Homo sapiens: one gene and its partners. The protein of the gene in region 5 purifies or fractionates together with the protein of the main gene of each other region. This does not show direct contact. Each region holds a gene or a part of one and is shown on either strand. Other genes may lie near its edges.

Evidence for each region.
Region 1: the proteins of MYB (region 5) and MAN1A2 purify together in Homo sapiens (co-immunoprecipitation; one large-scale study listed by IntAct). This does not show direct contact.
Region 2: the proteins of MYB (region 5) and UBE2B purify together in Homo sapiens (co-immunoprecipitation; one large-scale study listed by IntAct). This does not show direct contact.
Region 3: the proteins of MYB (region 5) and NDUFAF4 purify together in Homo sapiens (co-immunoprecipitation; one large-scale study listed by IntAct). This does not show direct contact.
Region 4: the proteins of MYB (region 5) and BASP1 purify together in Homo sapiens (co-immunoprecipitation; one large-scale study listed by IntAct). This does not show direct contact.
Region 6: the proteins of MYB (region 5) and PDCD6 purify together in Homo sapiens (co-immunoprecipitation; one large-scale study listed by IntAct). This does not show direct contact.
Region 7: the proteins of MYB (region 5) and CLPTM1L purify together in Homo sapiens (co-immunoprecipitation; one large-scale study listed by IntAct). This does not show direct contact.

The regions. Positions count from the first base shown.
Region 1 is NC_000001.11:117,499,812-117,503,904, reverse strand, and holds part of MAN1A2 (mannosyl-oligosaccharide 1,2-alpha-mannosidase IB), read right to left. Parts: intron 1,051-4,093; coding exon 935-1,050; intron 1-934. UniProt on the Homo sapiens protein: Involved in the maturation of Asn-linked oligosaccharides. Progressively trim alpha-1,2-linked mannose residues from Man(9)GlcNAc(2) to produce Man(5)GlcNAc(2).
Region 2 is NC_000005.10:134,381,555-134,385,647, reverse strand, and holds part of UBE2B (ubiquitin-conjugating enzyme E2 B), read right to left. Parts: intron 1-4,093. UniProt on the Homo sapiens protein: E2 ubiquitin-conjugating enzyme that accepts ubiquitin from the ubiquitin-activating enzyme E1 and transfers it to a E3 ubiquitin-protein ligase. In vitro catalyzes 'Lys-11'-, as well as 'Lys-48'- and 'Lys-63'-linked polyubiquitination.
Region 3 is NC_000006.12:96,888,615-96,892,246, forward strand, and holds the end of NDUFAF4 (NADH dehydrogenase [ubiquinone] 1 alpha subcomplex assembly factor 4), read right to left. Parts: intron 2,778-3,632; coding exon 2,490-2,777; 3' UTR 701-2,489; downstream 1-700. UniProt on the Homo sapiens protein: Involved in the assembly of mitochondrial NADH:ubiquinone oxidoreductase complex (complex I). May be involved in cell proliferation and survival of hormone-dependent tumor cells. May be a regulator of breast tumor cell invasion.
Region 4 is NC_000005.10:17,269,337-17,273,429, reverse strand, and holds part of BASP1 (brain acid soluble protein 1), read right to left. Parts: intron 1-4,093.
Region 5 is NC_000006.12:135,190,958-135,195,050, reverse strand, and holds part of MYB (transcriptional activator Myb), read right to left. Parts: intron 2,728-4,093; coding exon 2,493-2,727; intron 1,214-2,492; coding exon 1,133-1,213; intron 696-1,132; coding exon 591-695; intron 92-590; exon of another isoform or gene 1-91. UniProt on the Homo sapiens protein: Transcriptional activator; DNA-binding protein that specifically recognize the sequence 5'-YAAC[GT]G-3'. Plays an important role in the control of proliferation and differentiation of hematopoietic progenitor cells.
Region 6 is NC_000005.10:274,465-278,557, reverse strand, and holds part of PDCD6 (programmed cell death protein 6), read right to left. Parts: intron 2,547-4,093; exon of another isoform or gene 1,618-2,546; intron 1-1,617. UniProt on the Homo sapiens protein: Calcium sensor that plays a key role in processes such as endoplasmic reticulum (ER)-Golgi vesicular transport, endosomal biogenesis or membrane repair.
Region 7 is NC_000005.10:1,334,989-1,339,081, forward strand, and holds part of CLPTM1L (lipid scramblase CLPTM1L), read right to left. Parts: intron 4,018-4,093; coding exon 3,872-4,017; intron 2,995-3,871; coding exon 2,916-2,994; intron 187-2,915; coding exon 69-186; intron 1-68. UniProt on the Homo sapiens protein: Scramblase that mediates the translocation of glucosaminylphosphatidylinositol (alpha-D-GlcN-(1-6)-(1,2-diacyl-sn-glycero-3-phospho)-1D-myo-inositol, GlcN-PI) across the endoplasmic reticulum (ER) membrane, from the cytosolic leaflet to the luminal leaflet of the ER membrane, where it participates in the biosynthesis of glycosylphosphatidylinositol (GPI).

The DNA of each region.
Region 1 (4,093 bases), on a different chromosome or scaffold from region 5:
AACAGTACTGGGGTAATAAAAGAAAAATTAGAATAAGATAGACATTTAGAAACTTAGTTTGAGAACGGTACATTTTAATTGTAATATATGAGAATGTAAACTACAAGTATACTAGAATGTAAAATCCAGAAGGCAGGAATTTTTGTCCTGCTTGCCTACTGAAACATCCTCAAGTGGCTTGAACAGTGCCTGGTAATACACATTTGTTGAAAAAATAAAATGTTTACAAGGCTTTCATGTACAGATATGCAAGAAATACAAATAATAAATTTAAGAGCGAGTATGAAGAGATATTTATTTGGTCAGTCTTTAGGGAAGTGGACATATTTACAATCTCCATCTCTTCCAGGTCTGTTTACAGAGACCTCTACCTGGGGTTTGGAGTATAAGACGAAAATAAAGTTGTCTACTCTTTTCCATTGTTCCTTTTATGTGTATCTTTACAGTAAGGCTCATCGGGTGGATGAGTGGCTATGGTCATTTAGTACTATCAAAACTGCATGATCATTCCTAACAGATTTCATTAGCTACAGTAGGGAGCTCAGGTATGAGTCCAGGACCAGCATTATCAGTAACACATGGGAGCTTGTTAGAAATGCAAATTTTTAAGCTAAACTCCAGATCTACTGAAACTTCGTGAGTGTGGACCTAGTTACCTGTGTATTACGAAGCCTTCCAGGTGATTTTAATGCACATTAAAGAGCAAAGAACAAAAAATTTTAACAGGTACTAAGTACTTTTTTGATAAAATACCTACCTTATAGTCTAAGTCATTCTTTTTGAGATGTAGCTAAAAATTTACACACCCAATTACATAAAAAGATATTTACAACAAAATTTAGTGTAACCTGTCACATAGTTGTAATTCATCATCTAGTGATCACACAGCAAAACCAGTCTAGTATAAAAATATTTTTTAAAGCTATATACTTACTTTAATGTTTCAGCAAGAAAAAAGCTCTGCTGTACATCATCATGTGTAGGAGTAGAGGAATATACATCTTTGACTCCAGAAAACCCACCATTAACTCGGCAATACTTTTCAATGGCCTATGAAAGAGATCAGACAAAATAAGCAATTCCGTAGAATTTCAAGTTTTGAAGGACAACAAAACTTTGAAGGACAATAGTCAAAAGCTCATAAAGATTTGTATGAAAATTTGATGGCTTAAGAATAATATATTATCAAAAGGAAATATTCTCATACTGGAAAAATTAACTCATACGAGAAACAGGATGTTTCCTATAGAACTTCTCTGTCTCCAAAACTCTTTAATCTTTTTAAGACATCTTATATTTTCCTAACTTAGAAATCAAATTTAGGCTATTTTTTCTAAATGAGGGGTCTGTCTGGCAAAATAAAGGTCCATTAGTTCTAACAAATCAAGATGGAGGTCAGTTTCAATTAACAATTTTTAATGCAATTTTATCACTTCCAAGGACAAACAATAACCCACAACATGCTAAAAAATATTACTTAGGAGCACTCTATAGTAATAGCGGTAAGAGATAATATTTACTAAATACATACCATATGCCAGACATTGCATTATCATAATCCTATGAGTTAGCCATTACAGGTGGTACCAACTGGCAGAAAGAGCCCACCTACTACAATAATAATTACAATATAAAGAGTTAACAATTATAAGGTATTTACTATGTGCTGAATGCTGTTCTAAGAGCTTTAAATACAGTCACATTTGAATTTCAGAACTCTATGAGGTTAACAGCCTCACTTTTCAGATGGGAAAACTGAGGCACAGAGTAATTTGCTCTACATTATTAACTACTGTGCTTTACTGCTTGACTGAGAGTTAAAATTCTTACTCTTTTTGCATCTTTGGGCATGCCTAAATAAAATATACTGAATCAAATGGAATCTATTCACAACCTTATTTTTTAATTCAAAGCAACCAAACAGTCTGCTTATGCAGGTACAGCACAGTCCAGAATTCAACCAATCATGAAAAGTGGAAAGCACATGTGGTAGTTTTGTTTTTCTATTCTACCTAACCCTGCAAGGTCATCCAATGAAGGCATGGTTACTTAACTAACCATCGCTGTCTGCCATGGCTTGTTGTTCCTAGTCTTGCTACTTTTCTTACTCTTCTGGGCTTCTCCTTCCTATGAAAAGCTAATTAACATTAAAAAGGTGTTTATTTAATCAATCTGCTCATTTTATAGCTCCATTTTGATTATAACTAAATTTAAGGGGTTTGGTGCTTTTCTCTAATATATTCTAAAGAAATTTTGGATACAAGAGTTTTTAAGTACTTTTCTTCACAATAATCATGTGTCTTCACCACCACATGAACTATCAAAATGGTTTAAGAATAATAAGAAAGTAGTGGGGAGGCATGACTAATCTTTAAGACATTTAAAGTCATGAGGGCAAGTTTGGAAGTTTGAATATGTAAACAGAATAGCTAAGGCTACAGAAGACACGCTATACTGCTATTCTGCCTCACCCAGCCTTCCCTTTGCTTTCTTCGCACCCAAGAGGAGAGGCCAATGGTGATGCATGAGCAAATACTATTTAAGATATGACACCGCCTCTTTTGCCTCCATTCCTCCCTCTTCTCATCACTTCCACTGCACACTTCTGAAACTTGAATTTAGAGTATAACTACTCTAGTTCTTGTTCTTGACCGATTATACATTGAGTTTGTGTTTGTGCATATAGGCTACAAAAGCAAAATTCTACCTCCTATAATTCAAATTTAGACAGACATGGGCTAAAGTTTGACCCTGTCACACCTCTCCTTAACAGACAAAAGTAGGGCCATACTTGAAGAAAGCACACAGGAAAAAAGGACATTAGGAAAAGGATGAATTATCCTAAAGTATTCCTCAATGACAAAAAGTGCTTCTGCCACCACTTTCCACTCCTCACGTGATTCAGACATATCCCCCTCATTCCTGTAAATAAGGAGCATTAAATATCAGGGGACATTCAAGTGAAACAGATTCATTATATGATTATTTTACCTATTTCCCTTACATGAAAGAGTGCTTAATTTACGGAAGCATTAGTAAGCCACTGCTAACAATAGAAGTGTGTGTGTATTCTATTCCCAAACCACTGTGGCAATAGTTTGGCTGTCTTCTCAACTGTGGCAGCACCCTCCTACACAGAGAATTTCACTAGTAGCTGTGCTCCCAATTCTGGAGCCAAGGGGCCAAGGAAAAGCAGCATCAATAAATGCTGCATCTGTTCCTGTCCTGTGTAACCACTTGTTTCCATTAATATGCTCTTATTGTTAAAGTCCAGCAGGACTATCTAGGTCTGAATGACAGGTGAAAAATAAGTGTACTCCCCTTAGTTCAAGATCTCACATTATTCCTAGGTTATGGCTGTGGTCTCCCAAACCCACCAATTTGTGGATTACAATCAGATCCTTTTGCTTTGTTACTCCCCACTGAAAAAAGCCTTCAGGAGTTCCTTCCCCCTTATAAAACATTTAGCAGTTCTGTAAGGAATTCTCAAAAGTCAAGGAGCTTTTGCAGGTAGAAGATGCTAAGGAAAAAAGAAAAGTAAGATCTGAAGGGCTTTTTGGATAAGCAAAGAACTTTCTGTTACCATTTCCCATATGACAGCACTTAACGCAGTAGCTGACAGAAGTAACTAAGAGAGTGTGTATTACGGGGAGGGAGTTGTGCACACGTCTTATTTCCTGAACAACTAAGAACCTTTGATTTGGTGTGTAAGGCTGTCTACATAATGGCTCCAATCTTCTCTCCCACTTTGCCACTGTGAAACGTTCGCTTTACATAAACTGGTATACATCTTGCCTTAAAATATATCTCATACATTCCTGTCTGGGCAATTTACCAGCACTACTGACCTCATTTGGGATGTCCTTAGTCATTCTATCTAGATTGTAAGCTTAAGTTAAACAATTTGAATACGAATAGTCACCATAATTAGTGCTATTTATCACAATTAGTAAATCTCAAAGAATAAAACAACCCCTTACCCTGGGAATAAGCTATACTTTCATAAAAGACTAATAGTTTTTTCCTCCCTAGGTACTGATAGCTATGGATTCCCTGAAAGACTTTAAGAGTAAACCACTTGCTTCCTTTACTT
Region 2 (4,093 bases), on a different chromosome or scaffold from region 5:
AAGTGACTAACAGGTATCAAAAGTCCTGAACATCTGGGAGGGTTCTTCCCTTTTTAGACTGATTCTGTGAAAATACAAGCAATGAACGTTAAGTATTTGCCCAATTGTGAGACTATCTGTAGAAAAAATTTCTAGAAGTGAACTGCTATGTAAAACAAAGAGTAAATTCATTTAAATGTTACAGATACCATTTCATGGAGCAAACCATAACAGAGAGTGGGGAGCAAATCACACTTAAACACTGTGATTCTTCCAGACTCTATCCTAAGCCCTTTTCCTTCTTACCCTTTACACACACACTGGGCAATCCTATTGACTCCTGTGGCCTCAGTTACCATCCATGTGCTCAGTATTCCCAATCATTGGCCTTAGCCTAGATCTATCTCTCAGCTTCAAAGCCAACTTACTGTCCATCCCACAGAAACATCAAACTTAGCTGCCCAAAGCAAAAATTAGTAACTCTGTAAAACCCATAAAAGTGTAAAACAATTTTAAAGTTCTGAGTAACTATTTCTGAGAATCCAAAAGTAAATCAGAACTCAAATATCTTATCAACTAATGAACAAAATACAGAATATCCATACAGTGGAATATTATTCAACAATAAAAAATGAATCACAGATACTATTATATCACAACATAGATGAGCCTTGAAAACTTTATGCTGGGTGACAGAAGTCAGTCACAAAGGACCACATAGTATAAGATTCCATTTATATGAAATATCCAGAATAGTCAAATCTAGAGGGAAAACACGTTAGGGGTAACACTTACCTAGGACTGAAGCGGGGAGGGTTAAGACAAACAGAGTTGACTGCTAAGATAATAGTTATGGGGCTTTTTGTTGTTTTTAAAGTGGTCATGGTGATGGTTATGATTATGCTAAAAACCATTTGAGTTGTACAATTTAAGTGGGTCAACAGCTTGGTGTGTAAATTATATTTCAATAAATGTTTTTAAAAAAATAAACCAGAAAGTTAAATTATAAAAAAGTACTCAGCAGAATAAAAGGGAAACCATGCTATAAATATGAAGAGATGTGAAAACCAAATACACTGTGGTTTCTTAAAAATTTGCTTAAGTGATAACCCTATATTTATATCCCTTACTCATTCTACAGTCTTTCCCACCTTTATTTAAAGACCCCCTTATCATAATTGGTTTGGTTTGACTCAATAACAAGTCTAAGCAAGATAAAGCTACAGTGGAATAAATGGTAAATGACCTGGGAACTTCCCCAAAAAGAGAAACAGAAAATAAAATTAAACCTGTCTTGGACAAAAAAAAAAGCAAAAAAGGCAGCTAGAAGGAAAAAGCAACTTCACAGAAATGAAGTGCCAAAGGTAGTATCTATTACTGGAAAGTCACCTTGATTCCAGACACAAACGAAACACATCTCTCCTCTGGGTAGGGAGCTCTATAATGTATTCTGCAGTACTAGAGACACGACCAAGAGGACCTCTGAAAATGTTCTTCCTGAAAGTGAGTTGGCTGATGGGGAACGCCACATTTAAATGAGCAAAGGCTGTGAGACTGAAGAGGAGCTTCAAGAATTTGGAGAAGTCTTTCACATGGTAATTTATAATACAGAAATATAAATGTAATAGATGTAAACAGCAAGATGTCAAGGAAGACCAAATTTATTACAAAGGAATTAGCCATCGTTTAGTGAAGAATAGTAACAAACTACTCTATGAAGTGAAAATGAGAACAATTCCACTGAAGGAAAAAAATGGAAAATGACATTAAAAGCTTTAAAAACACACAAGCCTCTGACCCAGTAATCCCCACGTTTAAAAAACTTAGTCTAGTTGTTATGCAGCAATTAAAAAAACAAACAAAAAACTCAATCAAAATAATAATTAGTATCTGAAAAGATTTATTTTGAGGCCGGGCACGGTGGCTCACACCTGTAATCCCAACATTTGGGAGGCCAAGGCAGGCGGATCACCTGAGGTCAGGAGTTCAAAACCAGCCTGGCCAACATGGTGAAACCCCGTCTCTACTAAAAATATAAAAATTAGCTGGATATACAGCTTTGGGAGGCTGAGGCAAGAGAATCACTTGAACCCAACAGGCAGAGGTTGCCGTGAGCCGAGATCATGCCACTGCACTCCAGCCTGGCCGATAGAGCAAGACTCTGTCTCAAAAAAAAAAAAAAAAAAAAAAAAAAAGCTGGGTATGGTGGCACACATCTGCAGTCCCAGCTACTCAGGAGGCTGAGGCAAGAGAATCACTTGAACCCGGGAGGTAATGGTTGCGATGAGTCGAGATCACACGACTGTACTCCAGCCTGTGTGACACAGCAAGTGTTTTTCTCAACAACAAAAAAATTTTTAAGATTTTTAAGAATGTTCAAAGTGCTATTTAAAATTGTAAACAACTGAAAACTATCAACAATTGGACACTGGTTAAAAATATGATAAATCTATGTAACAGAACATTTTGCCATTAAAAATGATGTATCAGAATATTTATTTTTTTGAGATGGAGTCTTGCTCTGTTGCCAGGCTGGAGTGCAGTGGCGCGATCTTGGCTCACTGAAACCTCCGCCTCCCGGGTTCAAGCAATTCTCCCGCCTCAGCCTCCCGAGTAGCTGGGACCACAGGCATGCGCCACCATGCCCAGCTAATTTTTGTATTTTTGGTAGAGATGAGGTTTCACCACGTTGACCAGGATGGTCTTGATCTCTTGACCTCATGATCCACCTGCCTTGGCCTCCCAAAGTGCTAGGATTACAGGCGTGAGCCACTGCACTCAGCCCAGAATATTTATTAAGGAAAATGTTCACAGTATATTAAAAAAACAAAAACAAACAAACCAAAAAAAACACCTTATTTTATATATAACATCCCAATTTTCTTTTTTTTTTTTGAGATAGGGTCTTGCTTTGTCACCCAGGATGGAGAGCGGTGGCACAATCATGGCTTGCTACAGCCTCAACCTCCCAGGCTCCAGCAATTCTCCCACCTCGGCCTCCCTAGTAGCTGGGAATACAGGTACGCACCACTGTGCCCAGCTAATTTTTGTATTTTTTGTAGAGACAGGGTTTCACCATGTTGCCTAAGCTGGTCTTGAACTCCTGGGCTCAAGCAATCCACCCTCCTCAGCCTTCCAAAGTGCTGGAATTAATAGGCATGAACCACTGTGTGTGGTCATTGACTCCAACTTTGTATATGCAAAATTGTACTTTTGAGATAGAATCTTGCTCTGTTGCCCAGGCTAGAGTGCAGTGGCACAGTCATGGCTCACTGCAGCCTTGACCTCCTGGGCTCAAGTGATCCTCTCACCTCAGCCTCCATAAGTAGCTGAGACTACAGGTGTGCGCCACCATGCCTTGATATTTTTTTTGTTTTTTATAGGGATGGGACCTCGCTATGTTGCCCAGGCTGGTCTCTGACTCCTGGTCTCAAGCAACCTTCCCACCTTGGCCTCCCAAGGTGCTGGGATTATAGGTATGAACCACCACGCCTGGCCAAAATTGTATTTTTGAAAAGCTTAATTTTAGCCAACAGATTTTTCTTATTTTTCACAATTCCACAAATAAATAGATAATACTTTTATCTATTTCTTTTAGTAGAGACAGGATCTTACTATGTTACCTAGGCTGGCCTCAAGCCACCCTCCTGCCTTAGCCTCTGGAGTAGCTGGGACTACAGGTGTGCACCACTGTGCCTGGCTTACATATTACCTTTGTTTTTTTGGAGACAGAGTCTTGGTTTGTCACCCAGGCTGAAGTGCAGTGTTGTGAGCTCAGCTCACTGCAACCTCCGTCTCCCAGGTTCAAGTGATTCTCCTGTCTCAGCCTCCTGAGTAGCTGAGATTACAGGTGCCCACCATCATGCCTGACTAATTTTTGTATTTTTAGTAGTGATGGGGTTTCACCATGTTGGCCGGGCTGGTCTCAAACTCCTGACCTCAGGTGATCCGCCCACCTTGGCCTCCCAAAGTGCTGAGTTTATAGGTATGAGCCACCATGCCCGACCATGTATTACTTTTAATTCAGGAGTTATTAAAACAACTTGACCTCAAATTTGGAAGCTTTGTAAGAGTCTAGCTACAGAAACATAGCTAAAGGCTGGAAAAAATGGCC
Region 3 (3,632 bases), about 38 Mb from region 5:
GGAAAGCTTCCTTTCTTCAAACTCCTTCAAGGCCACCCTTCTGTCTATTCTCTGATCCTTACCTTCTTTCACAATAAACTTTAGACCAGAGAATGCTATTTCACCTGCACAAGTGATCAGCAATTTGGAACATGCTGGTGGCACTGGTCATAGATATTTTTTAAACACCCGTGATCCAGAATCCATGAACCCAGGCGTCTCCCAGACTTACACCAGCCTCTCACAGCAGACATCTGTATTTTCCCAGAATTCTACAGATGATTCTCATATACGGTGAGCATTGAGTAGTCCTGTCCTCATATGCCTCAGGCACTTTGCATGACATCTCATTAATTCTCATAATCTTACAAAGGCAACATAGCGTATCAGTTAGAAGCACAAGGTTCTGAAAATAACCTAACAGGACTAAATCCAGGCTTCAACACTTACTAAGTAATCTTTGAAGTTACTGAAGCTCTCTATGCTTCTAAAATATGGCTACTTATCCTTGTACCTATGGTAAATATTAAGCAAGTTAATACACGTAAAGCACTTCAATCAGACCCTAGTACAGTAATTACTTTTAAAATGTTAGATGGCATGGCTAGTGGTGATCCTGAGATCTAAACTGTTTTCTGAATCTAAATTCCATGCACTTTCTGACATCACTGCTACCAAGTGCTCTCCTGTATATAATAAAACGCAGTATAGGACTGATGAATGGTATGGGAAGAAGTTCTTTATTTTATCATGTGACACCACATAACAGATGCCTAACCACACAATGTAGATATGAATAAAGAAGATGGCTCAGAAGAGTGTACTAGTATTTGTGACTCAGCTAGTGACCATTATGATAAAAAGAATAAAGTTTTGACTTATTTACAGTTTTAAAATGCATTTTATATTGAGTAGTTATTTCATGTTTTCTTAAAACAATTATTGTATTGAACTAAAAATAAACTAGGTAGTTTGTTCACATAACAAATCTACATTCAAAGTCATGCTTACAAATTTTCCACTTAGTCCATTTTTCTGTTCTCAGCATTACTACAAATGCCTCATTCCGTCATCACATTGAATTCTTCAACATCCTCTATATCATTTCCAGGGGCATCTCTGGGAAGTAGTGATGCCTATCTTCCCTCGGAAGCACTAATAACCCTAATATACCCACAATTCACACCTTTTCCCTTCTTTGAGGTGTGCTGCTTTTTGGCAAGACAGAAAAAACACACTACTAGGATTTGAAAAACTAAATTCTGGGCCTGTTTAAGTCATAAACTACAGAATCTTCGGTCATATATTCTCCCCAGGCACTTGTTTCTCCACCGCAAAAAATAATTCCTATTTGCTTGGTCCTTTGTAGTCCTTTATTATTTATCTTCATGATAACCCTTACATTTAGGGTAGCATTATGCTTATTTTATAGAAGAAACTCAATCTCCAAGAAGATATAGTCTCCCAAAGATCCCCCAAGTAGTAATATATTAGGCAGAGCTAAACTCACACACTCACTCAAGATCCTAGTACTGGTACATGCTATGCTAATTAAATTTGCTAAAATGGATGAAATGGCAATTTCTCAGGTCCCTTCCAATGATCCTGTTCTCTGCTTCTACTTGCTATCTTTTTCTCTTCTCTCAACTAGCATTAACATCCGAAACTATATGTAATCACCAAATTTCATCTACCATGGTTTTTTAATTATTCTTTAAATTTTTCTCTATTTCCACATTAAATCCAGAGAAATGTTACTTTTTTGAAAGTTTCTGCTTCCTGCCTCTCTGAAGGCCATGGGACTTAACTATTTGTCAAAGCAGAAATTCCCATGGGACTTACCTATCTGTCAAAGCAGAAATTCCCAACATTTTGTAAACACCACTAATTACTTTTTATAACTGTAAAGACAATTATTCCATACTTAAAACCAATTCAAAATAAAATAAATCCTCAATACTTCTTATTCCCTGGAGTAGTAATTTTAATTAGATTCTATTGATTCATTTTCTCCTGTGTGCCTTTATTTGGGAACTACTGTTAGTCTACCCTGCTATCGAGTCTCTTTCCCTAACGAGAAAATGTCAGTCTTAAGGGTCAGGAAAGCTTTTACTTTCACTATCGCATGAGAAGAATGAACTAAACACCTAACTTGGAAAGTAAAACTCAGTTGAGGGATTCAGGACATTTCCCAAGGGGTAATATGACCAATTTAAAAGTTGGTATATGTGCCTAAAATAACAAATTAACTCTTTCACCATAATAAAGGTACAGATGTGCTCAGTCATGCTGACATGCACTTATGAAATATGCCTAAACCAAATTAAAATAAAACAAAAGATATTCTATGGCAATCTTGAAAAGTCAGGGAGCTCAATAAATATTAAGAGTATGCCCTCACAATGAGAGCATTAAATATTTGGTAATTAACATAATTTATTACGCAAAAAATGAGAAAATATACAGCAGGAGGGATGAGGAGTACACATAGGAAATTTCTGTGATTTTCTTCATTTTGATCGTATTGCTTTCTTGTCTTCAGGAGGGAAGATTTCGACTTCAAAAGTAACAAAATATTTAAGAAGAGAATTCACATCTTTCTGTTCTAACTGGTATTCCTGCATTATTTTCTCAGCAGTCCAGGTTTCTGGGAAAAGCTTATGATTATTGAGAAGTGTCAATGCTTCTACAATGGAAATTTTGCCTTTGGGAATGCTCTTAATATTTATCATATCAAAATGATGGTCTTTCGGCAATCTGAATTCCTTCGGCTCTTGACATGTTTCAGCAGCTTTTACCTAGTATCAAAAAAAAAAGGTTTTAGGATGAGAGAAAAGATTTGACATCTACTTTCATACTTCTCAAATCTACACTATTCCTCTTCAAATAACAACTAATATGGTTTGGATCTGTGTCCCCACCCAAATCTCATGTCACCAAATTGTAGTCCCCAAAGTTGGACGTAGGGCATGGTGGAAAGTGACTAGATCATGGGAGTGGATTTCCCTCTTTGGTGCTATTCTCGTGATAGAGTTCTCACCAGATATGGTTGTTTAAAAGTGTGTAGCACCTCCCCCACACCCCGCTTCTGCTTGCTCTGGCAATATAAGCCGTGCCTGCTTCCCATTCCACCATGATTATAAGTTTCCTGAGGCCTCCCCAGAAGCAGAAGCTGCTATCCTTCCTGTATGGCCTGCAGAATCGTGAGCCAATTAAACATCTTTTCTTTATAAACTACCCAGTCTCATGTATTTCTTTACATCAGTGCAAGAATGGATTAACACAAATTCTATATACGATTTTCCAAACTTCATTTTCTTATTATAATGAGCCATAGTTTAATAGTACTTTTGCCACATTGCCTTTTCATAACTATAGCTCTATCATTAAGAAATGTAGGCATCTCTAGAAAATAATAATCAAATGTATACCATCCACTCACCACATTATTTCACGTGTTTTAAAAGAACAATGAAAATAATTTATTAAAAACTGCACCTGTTTTAAAAGGGCAGGATTCTGATGCCACCCTAACAGCTGGCTTGATAACATCTATTCTGTTTCCCAGCTTTGTATTTCATACTCAGTACTCCCAAACACCTTGAATGAATTGAAATATTGCTAGTGATCTTTCTCCCGAGAAAATAAACTAA
Region 4 (4,093 bases), on a different chromosome or scaffold from region 5:
CCTAAGATTCTCTTACATGTCCTTTTTTTTTAGAAAAGGGGGTGGCAATTGGTCATAACCTGCTTCAGACAGGCTCTATTGGATTTAATTTTTGATTATTTCTCCCTCAAAAGTAGAAACAAACATACATGGCAAAAAATACAATTAAATATACTTTCATCCTATAAGCAATCACAGAGCAGTACATGAAAATATAAAGAAATAAACCGGATCAATATTTTAAATTATAGTTTATAACTCTTCCATTGAATTCTTAACTAGTCAGTATGCACGAATGGCCTATACCAAATATAATTTCAGCTCTGATATTTCAAAATACATTGGGTCCCTTAGGTTGAGCTAAATAAGAAACAGGAAACCTAACAGGTCTGCCTTTAGGATCTTCTCTCAATCCAGTAATAGAAACCCATACACCAACTTAGAAATTACAGACACTAAGATAAAGTGCAAACATAGGGGGTCCAGTAAGTATAACATGGGGTGCTGCTTTCTGACACCCACAGCATGAAATTCTATACAGCAATCCCCAGAGGTTTAAAGTCATGTTGGGTTACAAACCTAAAATCTGAGTTACTAAAACTGGCTTTTCTGACACATAGTTAAGGCCACATTCTATTCTTTGTTTTATGCCCAGCTGCGATTTGTTTCTGGGTCGAAAATGAACACACGTAATCAAGTTATAAGTAAGAAAATATGTCTCAATCCAGTTTGTTTTTCAAACAAAGTTAACAAACGCCCCTGGCATTTTGCTAATTTACCTCTACTGGTTATATTGAGGTATCAGAGGGACGCTCATAGGACCCACCTGAACCCTCGAAAAGCAGGATTGTCTCATTATTTCCCAAGACCATATGCGTGAAGACCTTGCCTACAACATCTATTAACTGTTTCCTAGGTATCAAGCACAATCCTACTCATAAATATATTACATAAAATATGTAATCTCAACAGCACCATGGGGTAGTATGCCATTCACATTCTCCTTTTACCCATAAGGAAATCCTACTAGCTGAGTTCGTGGAGCTGTACTATGAGCAAAGGCCAAGTCCAGCAAAATTCAGTAAGGCAGGAAGGCACCACAGAGGGGATAGAAGGAACTCCACTGAGAAGCCGGCAATGGGGCAAAGCTCTCAGCCCAGGAATGTTATGCGCCTGGGTTACAAGGATGGTGCCACCTGGGGTAGTTCAGAACTCAGGTGTTGAGGGAATAAGGAAGAAATTCAGTATTTTGAGTATCCTCTGCCTCTCAACATTTCATCTTCCTATTTGCCAGAGAAGCTTTTTACCAAGAGAAAGCAATGAGCATACAGTTTAATGATTTCATTCTTTTTCTTTTCTTTCTTTTTTTTTTTTTTTTTCTTGAAATGCAGTCTCAGTCTGTCACCTAGGCTGGAGTGCAGCAGCAGCACAATCTCGGCTCACTGCAACCTCCGCCTCCCAGGTTCAAGCAATTCTCCTGCCCAGCCTCCCGAGTAGCTGAGATTACAGGAGCCTGCCACCATGCCCAGCTAATTTTAGTATTTTTAGCACAGATGAGGTTTCACCATGTTGGCCAGGCTGGTCTTGAACTCCTGACCTCAGGTGATCTGCCCACTTCGGCCTCCCGAAATGCTGGGATTACAGGCGTGAGCCACCATGCCCAGCCGATTTCATTCATTTCTGTTACTTCTAATTTTGAAAGACATCATTTGGTATAGAAAGTTAGAAGTTGGAACTTCTAAGATTAAAATAAAGCAGTTAAAAAAATACAGCAATAGACAATCCATGCTGAAAAGTCACTTCAACTAAAAAAGTCACTAAACCAAAGCTCTACTGAAAAGGCCGAGACTGACTTTGCATTTCTCCACAACTAGGAAATTCACTAGAATTTTGTAGCACAGCAACAAAATTCAGACCAATGCTGAAGGCACTGACCTCAGTTCTATGTGTTTATGTATTAACCAAACACTAAAACTGACCTCTGTTATGACATCTCAGAAAAAAGCTAATTCTGGAGCTGTCCTTTAAAGACCGGGTGTGGTGGCTCACACCTGTAATCCCAGCACTTTGGGAGGCCGAGGTGGGTGGATCACTTGAGGTCAGGAGTTCAAGATCAACCTGGCCAACATGGCAAAACCCCGTCTCTACAAAAATTACAAAAATTAGCCAGGCGTGGTGGTGCACACCTATCATCCCAGCTACTGGGGAGGCTTGAGCCTGGGAGGCAGAGGTTGCAGTGAGCCGAGATCAGCCACTGCACTATGGCCTGGGCAGAGTGAGACCCTGCCTCAAAACAAAACAAAGCAAAACAAAAAACAAAAAGCAAACAAAAAAGCTGTCCTTCAAAGAAAACTCGATGCCACAAGGGCGAAAATGACAGGCTTACCGATTAATATTGGCATAGAAAATAACCATAAACAGTAGTAGAGAGAGGAATTTCACTGAGTTTAATCTGGTAAATATTGGACAAGAATTGAATTTCAAGGAGACTTTGCACATTGGGTCATGGCAGAGTATAAAAATCCCACCTCCACAGCACACCCACCCAGAATCCTTGGGCAAGTTATTTAATCTCATCGTCCTTCCGTTTCCTTTAAAATAAAAAAATTTTTTTAAATGTCAATTTAATGGGAATTTAATGTGAGGCCATGTGAGTACAACATTTTACATTTCCAGGGACTGCAAAAATGTTAGTTCCTTCCCCCATCATTTAGTTTGAAAATTCTTAGATAATTCTTTGCTGGTAAATTCCAACAGAATAGTTAGCACACAGGTTCCACACACACAAGTTCTAGAATCAGGAATCTGAAGCACCACAATGAAAAGAACATTTAACATCTTTTAAAAATGTTTAATGTTATCAGAAAGATGTTTGGTATATGTGTTCCATGCATGCTCCTGCTGGTTCTATTTGAAAAAGAAGTTTTTACAGTTATCTGTTGTCACCATATTGTAAAGGTAAAATCTCTACTTCTTCGCTCTGAATATTTTACTACTTAAGATTCTAAGAGGTTTTCAGTCTTTTTAAATATATTAACAGTCCATTCTGCCAAGAAATCAGTTTCTACACAGAGATAAAAACCAAAGATTAGTTAAATCCATTCCTCCCAATTAGAACGAGTATTGGAGTGATCAGAGAAAGAGAAGAGGGGGCTGTGTGTGGTGGCTCACACCTGTAATCCTAGCACTTTGGGAGGCCGAGGCGGGCAGATCATCTGAGGTCAAGAGTTGAAGACCAGCCTGACCAACATGGAGAAACCCCGTCTCTACTAAAAATACAAAATTAGCCAGATGTGGTGGTGCATGCCTGTAATCCCAGCTACTCAGGAGGCTGAGGCAGGAGAATCGCTTGAACCTGGGAAGTGGAGGTTGCGGTGAGCCGAGATCGCACAATTGCACTCCACCCTGGGCAACAAGAGCAAAACTCTTGTCTCAAAAAATAAAAATAAAGAGAAGAAATGTAATTGCATTTTTTGCTGTCCCCTCACCACCTCTTCATCACTTGGTCCAAGGAAACAAGAGAAAAGTGTTTTGATCACCAAGATGGAAAAGGAATCCCAATTCTTTTACTCATTTAATGCCTCAAATTTCACGTGTAAAGGGTAAAAACCTGGTCTACAGCTTATCTTGGCTAATAAGCTAAACACACCATGTTAATGAGAGAAGCTAACATTGTCAAATGTCATTTTGTTTTGCTACTTCCTGCAGAAGAATACTGTTTGTTTATCATATGTCAAATAGCTTAATAGAGATACTAACTTACATCTTTAAAATCCCCCACAACTATCTTGTGACTAGTTTTATTCCCTTCCACCTTATAAAACCAAGCCTCCATCCAATTAATCCCACCTGGCTAGAAACAGCTATTCTGGAAGAAATGTGATAAAGTTCTGCTTTTCGGTGAAGAGAGAAGAGAGTGTGCCATTCGAGCACTGTGAGTTGATCAGAGCAACCTGGGCTGGAAAGCAGGCAAATCAGAGGGAGGCCTGAAAAGGTCAGAGGGAGGGTTGGAAGTGATTATTCATCACACCAGCCTGGTCCTTTTTTGCCTACACCTGCCAGGAAACTCAAAAAGTGTTTGCATCCGTGGAATACATACCCATCACCTTCTGAG
Region 5 (4,093 bases):
GGTTAACTATGTATGTTGCAAAGCACAAGGAGCCATCCCAGTTGGCTGCCCAGTCGCTAAAGATGTCAGAATTCAGTAATGGCCCACATAACTTTCACACATGCAAATAAAAGAGAGCAGCTAATGTTATTTATGAAGAGGTTTTATATATAACCTTTTACATGTATATACTGAACATGCATCAAATCATGTCTGAAATTATAAAATATGAAAATATAGGTTAACAAAATAATAGAAAAAAACCAAAATGGTACCATATAGATACATAGCTCTGTAGAAAATGCAGATTTTCATTCATTTTATCTTTGCTAGTCTTTAAACTGATTATAGTCCTTCTGAAGAAAAAAATTGATGATAACAATCATAAGTGGATATTGCATTTTTATTGCAATTACAAAAAGACTGCTTCCAATTTAATCAGCATATAATCTGATACCAACTACATTTTACTACAAGCAACTTCTTGTGTTGAGACATTCTGAATGGATATATGGAGCCTTGCTAAGTGTAATATTTAGAAGAGAAGAGCGCTTAGGTAAACTGAGGCAAAGCTGCTATCCCCTCATTCAAGCACATGATGACAGTCTTACTGGTAGCACCTGCTGTCCTTTTAGCTCATTCTCGGTTGACATTAGGAGCAATTCTAATTCCTTTATTCGCTTTTCCTTCTCAGGGTCTTCATCATTATAGTGTCTCTGAAATTACAAAGTAAGGGAAATAAAGACAAAGGTCTGATTGGAAGCTGCAAATACAATGGGTGTAGCCAATATGGTCATGAGGTGCCGCACAGCCCAAAGAGCCTCACTGTGACAACACCACCAACCAAATTTGGCTCCTGCAGAAATCTTTGTGAATGTTATTTCAGACTTAAGGGAGTGATGTGAAATCTCAGGCTAGAGTGGATGCTGACTGATGAGTTATTTCACCTTGCAACATCAAAGAATCAGAAAATTCCAGAGCAAACTCATTCTAGAAGACAAGATTAATAGATTGCTGGCCAAGACTCTGCTCTCCTCTCCATGTTCCCTTTCCTTTTTACTTTAGTTGCTCAGGTAAAAATATGTGTTTAGATGAAAGAAATAAGCATTTCTTAAAAGTGGTGCTTTGAACAGTGAATGATCAATGATCTTACCTGAATGGCTGCGGCAGCTGGCTGAGGGACATTGACTATATTTACATGTAACGCTACAGGGTATGGAACATGACTGGAGACCTAGATGCAAAAGACAAAACAAAGGCCACGTCATTCAGGGCTACATATGCTTCAGGGGACTTGGCTTCCTGAGGTTTCGTTCTGGGACTGAGAGAAAAAAAACACTTTACTGATAAAATACACTAAACAAATTTTTAAAACCTTTTAATGTGAAATTTAGCCAGGCCTTTAAAATGGCTAAACAGCTAAAGGAACATGGTGAAAAATCCTTGGGAGGTGTTGATGAGCACTTTAAATTTTGGGAAGTGTTCCTTAATTAGAGAAAAACACAATGAAAAAAACAATAAAAAATATATTATAAAATACATTAATGAATGTTTCAAAATTGTTTCTATGGGAAAAATTGATGGCACCAGCTGTTTGTAAATAAAAATATTTTTCTTGGAATAATTTTGAGTTTTAATAAAAAGCACAGGAATTCTTATGATAATTTATTCATCTGAGACCTTTCTGTAAAGTTTGTAGTCAAATCCATGGACAGAGAAGAATAAAAACTATTTATGAACATGTTTTGCATATAATTTGCATATGAGCTCTCTATTCTTGGGTAAGTTTTATCATTTAATATTGTTATTCTTAAGATTAAAGTTTCTCGATTTTTTTCCTCTTTCTTCTTCTTTTTCCACCTATTATGGATTATCACTTTCCCTAAATATAAATATCTAGAAATAAGGAAGGGATCACACTGATCCAACGGAGACTAAAAGGAGACATCAGAAAATGAATGTCACAAAGTTCTGCTCCTGACTCAGAGTAAGAAGGTAAACACTTACTGAGTGAATAAATTAAGACATGTCTGCCTGATCACTGCCAGAATGAAACATACCATAACCACTGAATTTCAGTGTCAAACTCTCTCCTCTTTAAACATAATACTACCTTCCCTTTTCGTTTTGGAAGAGAAAAACATTACATCTACAAATGCGACTCCATTCCCCTATTCTTCAATAGTACCTTAAGTAAATTTACATTCAAAGGTTGCCTTCAAATTAGATTTGAAGCAGCAATTTAGAATCGGACAGCTCGTTTTCTAGTCAGCACTATCTCTATGAGCTGTGTCACCCTGGGCAAAGCGCTTACCATCCTCGTTTCTGGAGACATAAACCAGGGGTAACACACCATACCTACACCCTATCTACTTCAAAGGGCATAGGTGAAGACTGGCCATGATCATGCTCAGGAAAGTTCTCTGAAAAGTATACAACTGCAAAGTATGATTATTACCTGGAGCTAAACTAACCGTCTCTCTCATTAAACTAGATTCACAGGAATGGCTTACATTTTGTGCTTCAGAAATGTGGTAATAGGAATAGTCGTTGTTAACAGTGGGCTGGCCAGTGGCAGGGAGTTGAGCTGTAGGCGGAGCCTGAGCAAAACCCATCAAATGACTGTTCTTCTGGAAGCTTGTGGCCACTGCTGGCTGGCTGGCTTTTGAAGACTCCTGCAGATAACCTTCCTGTTCGACCTTCCGACGCATTGTAGAATTCCAGTGGTTCTTGATAGCATTATCAGTTCTGCACAGAAATATATCACACAAATTTCACAAACAAAAATTTCAATTCAGATTAAAGTGAATTGACAGAAAACTGTTTCTAACAGAGACCTTTCCCTTGGGCCTATTAGTTGTTTTCTCTTTTTAATTGTTTCCTTCTTCTCCACCCTCTGAGATCAGGCTTTCTCTATTGCCTAGTTAGATTTCTCTTAGTTACACAATCTGGAATGCATGTCGTTTTCTAGAAATATCAGTATCTTTTAACCATTCCATTTCCTTGGTAAAGGAGTATTTTCAATACGATAACGCTTCATGTTTATTCTGACCGGTCGCGGTACAAGACTCCAACACAATGTAAAGTTCCAGCTGCCTTGGGGAAATTACTCCTTTGAATGTGGCACAGCAGGGCCTACACACCACGAGAGGGACATGGTGAAGTCTGGTGGATGATAAGATGCTGCTGATGAAGAATACTTCACTCTTTATCTCTCAAAGCACTAGTGAGAACTTCTGAGACCAAAAAACCTCCTACTCTTTGAAAGCCACCCCAATTGTTTTCTGAATCAGACAGAGACGAGAGTGGAAAATGGGATCCCAAAGGGAAAGATCCTAACCCCCAGTATATTTTCAAAAGGCAACGCATTTTTACTAAAGTCTTTCCATTCTCAGGAAAACAGTTTCTCAATTCAAAAAAACCGTTTAAGTCTCCCTTTTTCTATTTCAATGGGGGTGGGGGAATGTATGCTAAAGAAAGAGGAAGTTCAATAGCCCTGTTAATTTTGAGAAGAATCAGCAGTGTATCCTCTCAGGCCATATGGGAGGAAAGGCCTTTTTTTACCAACCTCTTAAAATTTCTAAGTTTATACTGAACCACAAGGGTGCAAATGCTTTGGAGCATCACTAGAGAATACTATATAAACTTTCTCCTGGATTATGAAGCTCAAGAATAAAACTATTTTTAATATTTTTGATCTACATCATTTTAATGCAAGATTTATCATTAAAAGTATTGCTTTCCAAAGGAACAAAATCTGTTATATACTACTTAAGTGGGAAAAATGGGACAAAATGAGCTTCCATAGTTATCCCTCATAATGAGGTCATTTTCTTGCCTTGTTCATTAAAAAGAAAGCATTATTACCCTGACATTATTTAAAAACCTGGAAGTAGTATGAGAATTCAAGAAATACATTATTTCTTTAATCAATGAAGTAAAAAATTAAGCAAAGTGGTATAATGAAATGAATACTGGTGGCCAGGTATGGTGGCCCATGCCTATAATCCCAGCACTTTGGGAGGTGAAAGGATTGTTTGAGGCCAGGAGTTTGATACCAGCCTGGGTAACATAGCAGGATTCCATCTCTACAAAAAATATTTTAAAATCAGCT
Region 6 (4,093 bases), on a different chromosome or scaffold from region 5:
TTTTTTTTTTTGGGAGAGACAGGATCTGCCATGTTGCCCAGGCTGGTCTCAAATTCCTGAGCTCAAGTAATCCTCCCACCTCAGCCTCCCAAAGTGCTGGGATTACAAGCATGAGCCACCGAGTCCAGCCTGCTTTATTTTTCTCTACAGTACTTGGAATCTTCTAATATACTAAGGACACGTGTATTTTCTTTCTGTCTTCCCTAGAACAGGAGCTTAATGTGGGCAGGTATTTTTGTTGATCTCATTTATCACCCTATCCCCAGTGCCTGGACAGGGTCTGGCACATGAATGGTGTGTTCTAAATAAATATTTTTAATAGATAAATAAATGAAATATCCTACAAGAGAAAGCTATATCTGGAACTCACCCACCAACAGAACCTAAAAGCCAAAGACCTTTAGCCTGTCTCTGCCTCTGAACACACCCAACCCCGGAGGAGCCAGCAGAGGAAAAAGAGGACAAAGGTGGGGAAGGGAGCAGGTGGTGCCCACCAAGTAAGGAACCCTGAGGCTTAGGCGGAACCTGAGCTGGAGAAGGGACTCATCTAGGAACTGGGTATGAGATTAAAGTTTAGATTTGTCTGGCCTGGATTTTGTTAACACCTAAACAAGGGTTATTCTATTCTTTTTTTTTTTTTTTTTTGAGATGGAGTCTCACTGCCCCCCAGGCTGGAGTGCAGTGGCGCTATCTCAGCTCACTGCAACCTCTGCCTCCCAGGTTCAAGTGATTCTCACGCCTCAGCCTCCCGAGTAGCTGGGATTATAGGCGCGCACCACCATTCCCGGCTAATTTTGTATTTTTAGTAGAGATAGGGTTTCACCATGTTGGCCCCCTGGCTCACGCCCGTAATCCCAGCACTTTGGGAGGCTGAGGTGGGCAGATCAAGAGGTCAGGAGATCAAGACCATCCTAGCTAACATGGTGAAACCCTGTCTGTACTAAAAATACAAAAAATTGCTGGGCGTGGTGGCTCACGCCTGTAATCCCAGCACTTTGGGAGGCTGAGGCGGGTGGATCATGAGGTCATAAGATCGAGACCATCCTGGCTGACACGGTGAAACCCCGTCTCTACTAAAAAGACAAAAAATTAGCCAGGCATGGTGGCGGGTGCCTGTAGTCCCAGCTACTCGGGAGGCTGAGGCAGGAGAATGGCATGAACCCAGGAGGCGGAGCTTGCAGTGAGCCAAGATAGTGCCACCGCACTCCAGCCTAGGCGACAGAGACTCTGCCTCAAAAAAAAAAAAAAAAAAAAAATACAAAAAATTAGCTGGGCGTGGTGGTGGGCACCTGTAGTCCCAGCTACTCAGGAGGCTGAGGCAGGAGAATCGCTTGAACCCCAGATGCGGAGGTTGTAGTGAGCCAAGAGCGTGCCACTGCACTCCAGCCTGGGCGATAGAGCAAGCCTCTGTCTCAAAAACACACATAAAAAAACCTTCAAACGAATGTAAGAATTATTATTTTTTAAAGTACAGCTTTAAAAATGCCCCTTACAAATACATCAGTGTTATATTAAGGCAAACCTACTTCAGAAGCACAAAGTTAATTTCTTATAATTCCAAGAAATATGTGAATGTTAAAAAAACCCCAAACACCCGAAAAGGGATCAAACTCAAGATAGTTTGGAACATTTTATTGCAAAAAGAAGGGCAGAGAACAGTCTTCTTCTTCATACCTGTTCACCACAGACCTCCCTGAGAGCAGTAATTTTTAGCAGCTCTCCTGTGCAAACAAGTCTCATGAAGGAATCAGTGTATGGGCCACAAATACCTTCTCAGTGTGGTTTCACCTAGAATACAAGCACTCAGAAGCACAAATTTAACTGAAGTGAGAAACCAGGCCATTTTGTAGCTTCAGTTTTTCTACCAGTAATATATTAATTTCTTGAAATAGCCTAATAATTTAGTTCTACTATCAAAACAGAAGCCCAATCTGGGAGCACAATTATTATAGAAATCAAACTAATTTCAATCATATTAGTATAGGAATTCATATTAGTATAGGCTGAGGCAGGAGGATCACTTGAGCCTAGGAGTTTGAGACCAGCCTGAGCAAGACAGTGAGACTCCATCTCTAATTTTTTTCTTAAAATAAAGAAATTCAGAGAGAAGAAGGAAGAGGATATGTGTTTATCCAAGGACAAATTTTGTGTGCCTGTACATACAACACAACTATGAACCTTCCTTCACGCAGCTCACAACCTAGTAGTGAGAGGGAACTATGAAAACGTGAGCCCCCACGATGAGGAAAAAGGTGCATATCAGAGAAAAGAAAAATGCTGCGATGATCCAATGGCAGGAGCAGCGCGCATCCACTTTCTTTGTTTTTTTGAGATGGGGTTTCGCTCTGTCTCCCAGGCTGGAGTGCCGTGGCTTGATCTCAGCTCAATGCAGCCTCAACCTCCCAGGCTCAAGTGATCTTCCCATCTCAGCCTCCCAAGTAGCTGGGAATACAGGCGTGCACCACTACACTCATTTACTTTTTGTAGAAACAGGGTCTCACAATGTTGCCAAGGCTGGCATCCTGAAGGGCGGGTGGGGCTTCATCCTACAGAGATGAAAGGCAGAAGAAGCTTAGAGCCCAAAGCAAAGGGGTGGAGGACAAGGGCATCTTCAGAACAGAGTGGCTCGGCTGAGACATCCAGTAGGATGCCACCAGGCAGAGGTGTGGTGGAAAAACACAGGGCCACGGTGAATGCTCACATGTGAGGAGCAAACCACCACAGAACACAACAGAAACACGGTGTACTAAATCAGGCTTCAAATCGCAGCCCTGCAACTTGAGAGCTACCACAGGTAACCCGGAAAGGGAGCACCGACAGCAATGCCCACTGCCTGAGGCTGTGAGATGGACCAGAAACCTGTGCTTACTAACAACCTGCCTTATTCCAGAAGGAATTCAGGAAACACAGAGACACTCACGGTACAGCAAAATAAAGTAAATGTGAATCATATTGGTTGAGAAGAAAGTGAAGAGTCTAAGACTATGTCATAAAGTTTACTTCTACTCTAAACTCTCATTACTGGTGAGCCACCAACCTGACTTTAAATTTTCTAGCAGCTAAATTGAAGAGGAAAATGTCATCAGGTAAACGTTTATAAGATGCAAACAAAACAGAACGGCCACCACAGTTTCTGAGAACACGCGCAGCTCCAGGAGAAATGGGGTGGCCATTTCCTGGGGCTGCCCCGCAGCAGGTGTGTGAGCCCGAAAGCCAGCGTCTCTCAGGGTGAACAGTGACTACGGGCTTCATGGGGCCACATGCCCCCAGCACAAGCTGAGGAAATCTCCCAGGGCAATTCAGGCAACAGGGTCTCACAGTGTCGCCCAGGCTGGTCTCAAACTCCTGGGCTCAAGGGATCCCCCTGCCTCGGCCTCCCAAAGTGTTGGGAGGTCAGGCGTGAGCCACTGCACCTGGCCCTGCACTCACATTAGAGAAGAGGGCTTTGCATCCTGAAGGGCGGTGGGGCTTCATCCCACAGAGATGAAAGGCAGAGGAAGCTCAGAGCCCAAGGTAAAGGGGGGCGCCTAAGAAAAGTGACTCCATTGGGACCACGGTGAGAGGGTCCCGATACACAGCTTGGGTTAAGCCACTGATTTCAAAGTATCTCAGGAATGGTGGACTCAGCACCCATCAGGCAATTCTCTCAAGCAGTCTCCTGGTAGATATTTAGTAGCAGCTGAAATCAAGATTATGTTCTGATAGACACTTGCTGATGGTTAAAGAGCTATATACACTTTGAGGACCAGCTGAACTGGGGCAGGACTAACTCCCTCTGGTGAAAATACAGGAACCCAAACACACAAGTCAGAGCAGGAGGTGTCTCCCCCACCCCCAAACAATAATGCTGACCTTGGATTTGGGTTAAGTGCCTAGCCCAGCGTGTGAGTGTTGAGTAAGTGGAAACCATCATCACCATCATCAGGTAATGGAAAACCATCAAAGCTTTGAGCTGGCTTGTTAGCCAAGAATAGTACCAGTGTATTAGCTACTACTAATACTCACAGCTGACAATTACTGAGCACTTGCTCCGTGCCAGGAATCACGGAAACACCTCGCATGCATTTCCTCAATACTCCCTCCCAGTAACGGC
Region 7 (4,093 bases), on a different chromosome or scaffold from region 5:
TTCGCACTTGGATGCCCGAGGGGCTCCAGGGCGGCCTCACCCAGGCGCCGGCCGTGTGCGGCACATACCGAACTGCTGCAGGGAGTACACGGCGTCCTGCATGTGGATCCAGAAGCGCAGCCGCCCCAGTGAGACCTTGTCGTAGGACACGGTGAGGGGCAGCTCGGTGGTGGAGCGGTTTATGACCTGATGAAGAAAGCCACACTGAGGGCCCTGCCCTCATACCCTTGCACCCAGCTGCCTGGCAGCCCTCGCCAACCCTGCCATCCCCCTTCCCATCCCTGTGTGGCCCCAGGTCAGCCATGACTGGGCCCAGCAAGCATCCCCCGGTCCCTCCTTCTGTCACCACAGGCCTCAGGCCCCAGCGTGCTGCGTTCCAGCACAGGGAGGTTCCCACCCCCACCAGGACCCCGTGAGCTCAGCAGCGCTAGCAGTGCCTGGTCTGTTTTGCTGCACGTGCCCCTTCAATTTTAAGCCGCACAAGTCCTGGTGCCCCGGAGGTGGTGCTTGCCACCCAGCTGCTAGGACTCCATGGCGCAGCATACGGCGCTGAGCTTGGCCTGCAGAGCCCTGGCCTGTCCTAAGAGTTGGAGACCACGGGACAAGCACAGCCCTGCAGCACATGGGCAAAGTGCCTCAGGGCCTAAAGCACAGAGCAGGGGGTGGCCGTGGGGACAACAGAAAGCTTCTGGAACGCAAAGCTAGCAGGGGCAGTAGGGTGGATGTGTAGGTCTCAGAACCACGAGCTTAGTCCTGCAGCCTGCCGGGGCCTCACGCACACAGGCTGTGGGCCAGGTCCCAGGGTGCCGAGGTAGGAGGGTGAGGAACGGGTTCACAAGCGCGAGCCCACACCCTACAGCACGTGGGCAGTGACCACACCCGGTGAGCACCACCCTCCACGTTCTGGAACATCCAGCGAGGGCTGTGCTCTAATCCACCTGCCCTGCCTCAAGCCCTGACCCGCCACCCTCCACGTGCTGGAACATCCAGCGAGGGCTGTGCTCTAATCCACCTGCTCTGCTATGGCGGGCACTGCTGGTGTCAGGGTGTGGTGGAATCAGAGCCACAACCAGCAGGTGCCAGGTTGCCCTGAGAGCGGCTGTCAGGGCGCCCCACGTAGCCAAGTGGCATCAGTGCACATGGATGGTGGCCTCCAGGCACCCCTCGAGCTGCCAAGCGTGTCCGAAGGGTGTCACTGCCTCCTCCATCTGGCAGTGCTGGGCCCAGCCACAGAAGGTGCCGACTTCCTGCACCTGCTGCATCCCAGCTGCCTGCTTCCTCTCTCAAGACAGCACCTCTCGAATCTGGCCCCAAGTGAGACACAGCAACAGCGACACATGAGAGAGACTGTGATTTGGGGGAAAAGCTGCTGTCGGCACACGTGTCTCCATAACCACTGGAACGCAGGCCACCACTGGCACAGCTGCGCCGCAAAGCCTGCCCCGGGCCTCTAACAAGACAGATCTGCAGACAGACACACAGGGCAGCCTTCTGCAGCTGCCTGCCCCTGTCCACCATCTCCTGAATGCCTGCAAGGAGTCAGCGGCATGAGGCTTCACAAGAGGTGACCACGAGCTGGTGCCACAGCTCACACAGCTCTGTATGGGGCATTTTAGCAGAACTTGCTGTCCTGAGGTTTGTCAGCAGCACACCAGCAAACTCCAGCAAACAGAGAAAGAGGTTGGAATTGCAGGGGCCGACAGAGAAACTACTCAGGGATAGGCTGCAGCGCCAGACCTGCTCGCCAGCCACTGCCTGTGCAGCCCCCAGCCTGCAGGTTGTATAGGAGCAATCAGTGACCCCAGAAGTGAAGGAGGCAGTATGTTAGGGACTGCAAGGGGTCTGAGGGAACAGCAGTACAGGGGGACTGTTCTGAGAGCCGCAGTCAGGAGGAGGCAGCAGGGCCTGGGCAGAGATCAAAGCAGCCAGGTGCTCGCTTCTCCGTTTCCCAGCTGCACCCCCCCGCTAGCAAGCCCTCTGCTCTCCCCAGGACTGTTTCCTCTTCAACAAAAAAGGGGAAAGGGCCCGCCTCAGAGGTCAGAGGTGCCGAGAGCCTTAAGTGGAAGTGGCCGGCTCCTAGTGGGTGATCCGGAGTGACAGTGATGGCTTGCAGGGAGGCAGGGCAGGGCAGCGATCCTGCAGGGCCCCAGCTGAGCGTTCACCTCTGAACCCCAAATAACCTCATCCGTGAAACAACGCCACAGCTCCCAGCACCACAATTACGGAAAGATTCACAAAGTGCTTAGCACAGTGCCTCATGTGCAGTAAGAGACATTAAATATTAACTGCTTCTGTGAGTCTCAATACTGGCCAAAGGTTGGCCACATTTCATCTCCTCTCAAAGCAACTATGGGAGAGCAGGCGCTGTCACTGCCCGTAATCACAGGGCGCCAGAGCCCAGAGAGCAGCCACTTCTATTCGCAAAGGCCTTCCGCCTTGCCAGGGGCCACCCCGGGGGCTCCAGCTCCGAGGAAGGGCTGTCACCCGCTCCTCTGGCCGCCTGTGCAGGACCAGCCCTGGTGGGGAAAGCAGGAGTTTGCTCAGGATACTGTGAATTAATCTACATGGCACACCAGGAGCTCACACGCAGACGCTGTTTCACACGGTGCTCATGTGCCTGCTCTCTAAGCGCTGCCCTCTATGCGCTGCATAAACAATCTTCCAGGGGCCTTTCACCAGTGACAGTCCAGAGGCTCAGCAGGACCCCGCAGCCAGCCAACGGCAAACCCAGCACACCACCAGGGCCCCCCTGTCACAACCCTCGCACACTCGAAGGCAGTGCTTCCCAGCACGGGTAAAAGCACCGTGTCAAATGTCAGCAATGGCCCGGTCCATTAGGGTGCAGGGGCTGCGGGGCCAGTCTTGGGGTCAGTGTCTCGCCAGCTGCACAACCAGCGGGCAGAGGTGTCACTCACCATCAGGTCCTTCACGCGGTTGCTGAGCTGGTCGATGAACAGGATGGGCAGGTAATGCACGGTTTTCCCCAGCTGGATCCTGGGATTAAAGCACAACTTTCCAAAGTCAGCACCAAGGCTTTTACCTTTCAATGAATGAACACATCCAGACACTGGGTTTACCCCAGAGAAGTGCCCCCAGCACCACCCTCAACTGCTTCTCAGTCACAATGACCCCAGGGCACAGCCTCCCCAAACGGAAGCAGAGAGCCTGACAACATATGCACGCTTGTGAGACCCGCTCCCCAGGAAGTGATGGCCACAGGTGGGAAAATGCCTCCACGGCCACTAGGAGCGGGGGAATTACAGGGACACGGCCGTACAGCAGAACCCAGGGCCCTCTGCGCACTGACACGGAGCAATCCCAGGATGCACTGACACGGAGCAATCCCAGGATGTGGCCACTACACTTGGAAGGGCGAGTCACCTGCAGCCACCTGGGAGGCGGAGCTGTGGCGCAGGAGTTGGGGGGGGGATCCCCAACACATGGGAGAGACGAGGTGAGCTCAGGTGGCCAAACACGTGAATTCCAATAATTGTATTTAACTGATGGCAAGTGATACTAAATAATCTAAAGATTAACTTTTAAGTAAATCTAAATAAGCCAAGTTAAAAAATCACAAGGGGAGCAAAGCAACCCGTTCCCATCAGCGCCTTCCGTTTTCTCTCCATGGAAGCCTTCGCCAGCCAGGAGCAAAGGGCAGGATGCTCCAGCTTGAATTCCTTTCTCCCCCCTTCCAGCCCTGTGGTAGCAGCACAACCTCAATGAGGAAGTGGGAAAGAGCTGGGAGGCCCGGGCAGCAAGTGCCTCCCCACAGAGGGGACTCCACGGTGCAGGAGTGACCTGCTGGCGAGTTCTGGCCAGCCAGGGTCCCAGCACCCTCCCCCCGGCGCTCCAGCTCTGGGGCCCCACTTACATCTTCATGTACCGATGCACATCGGCAGGCAGGGAGGACCCGTCAAAGACAAAGTTGTCCGCCATCACGTTCAGCGCCAGCCGCGGTCGCCAGTGGGACACTGGCTCATCCAGGGCACTCGTCGGCTTCTTCTCCGCCTCGATCTGCTGTTAAGTGAGGAAAACAGAGGCCAATGCTGGGACAGAAAACCATGCCCAGGACAGCAGGGTCAGCCCCCTAACC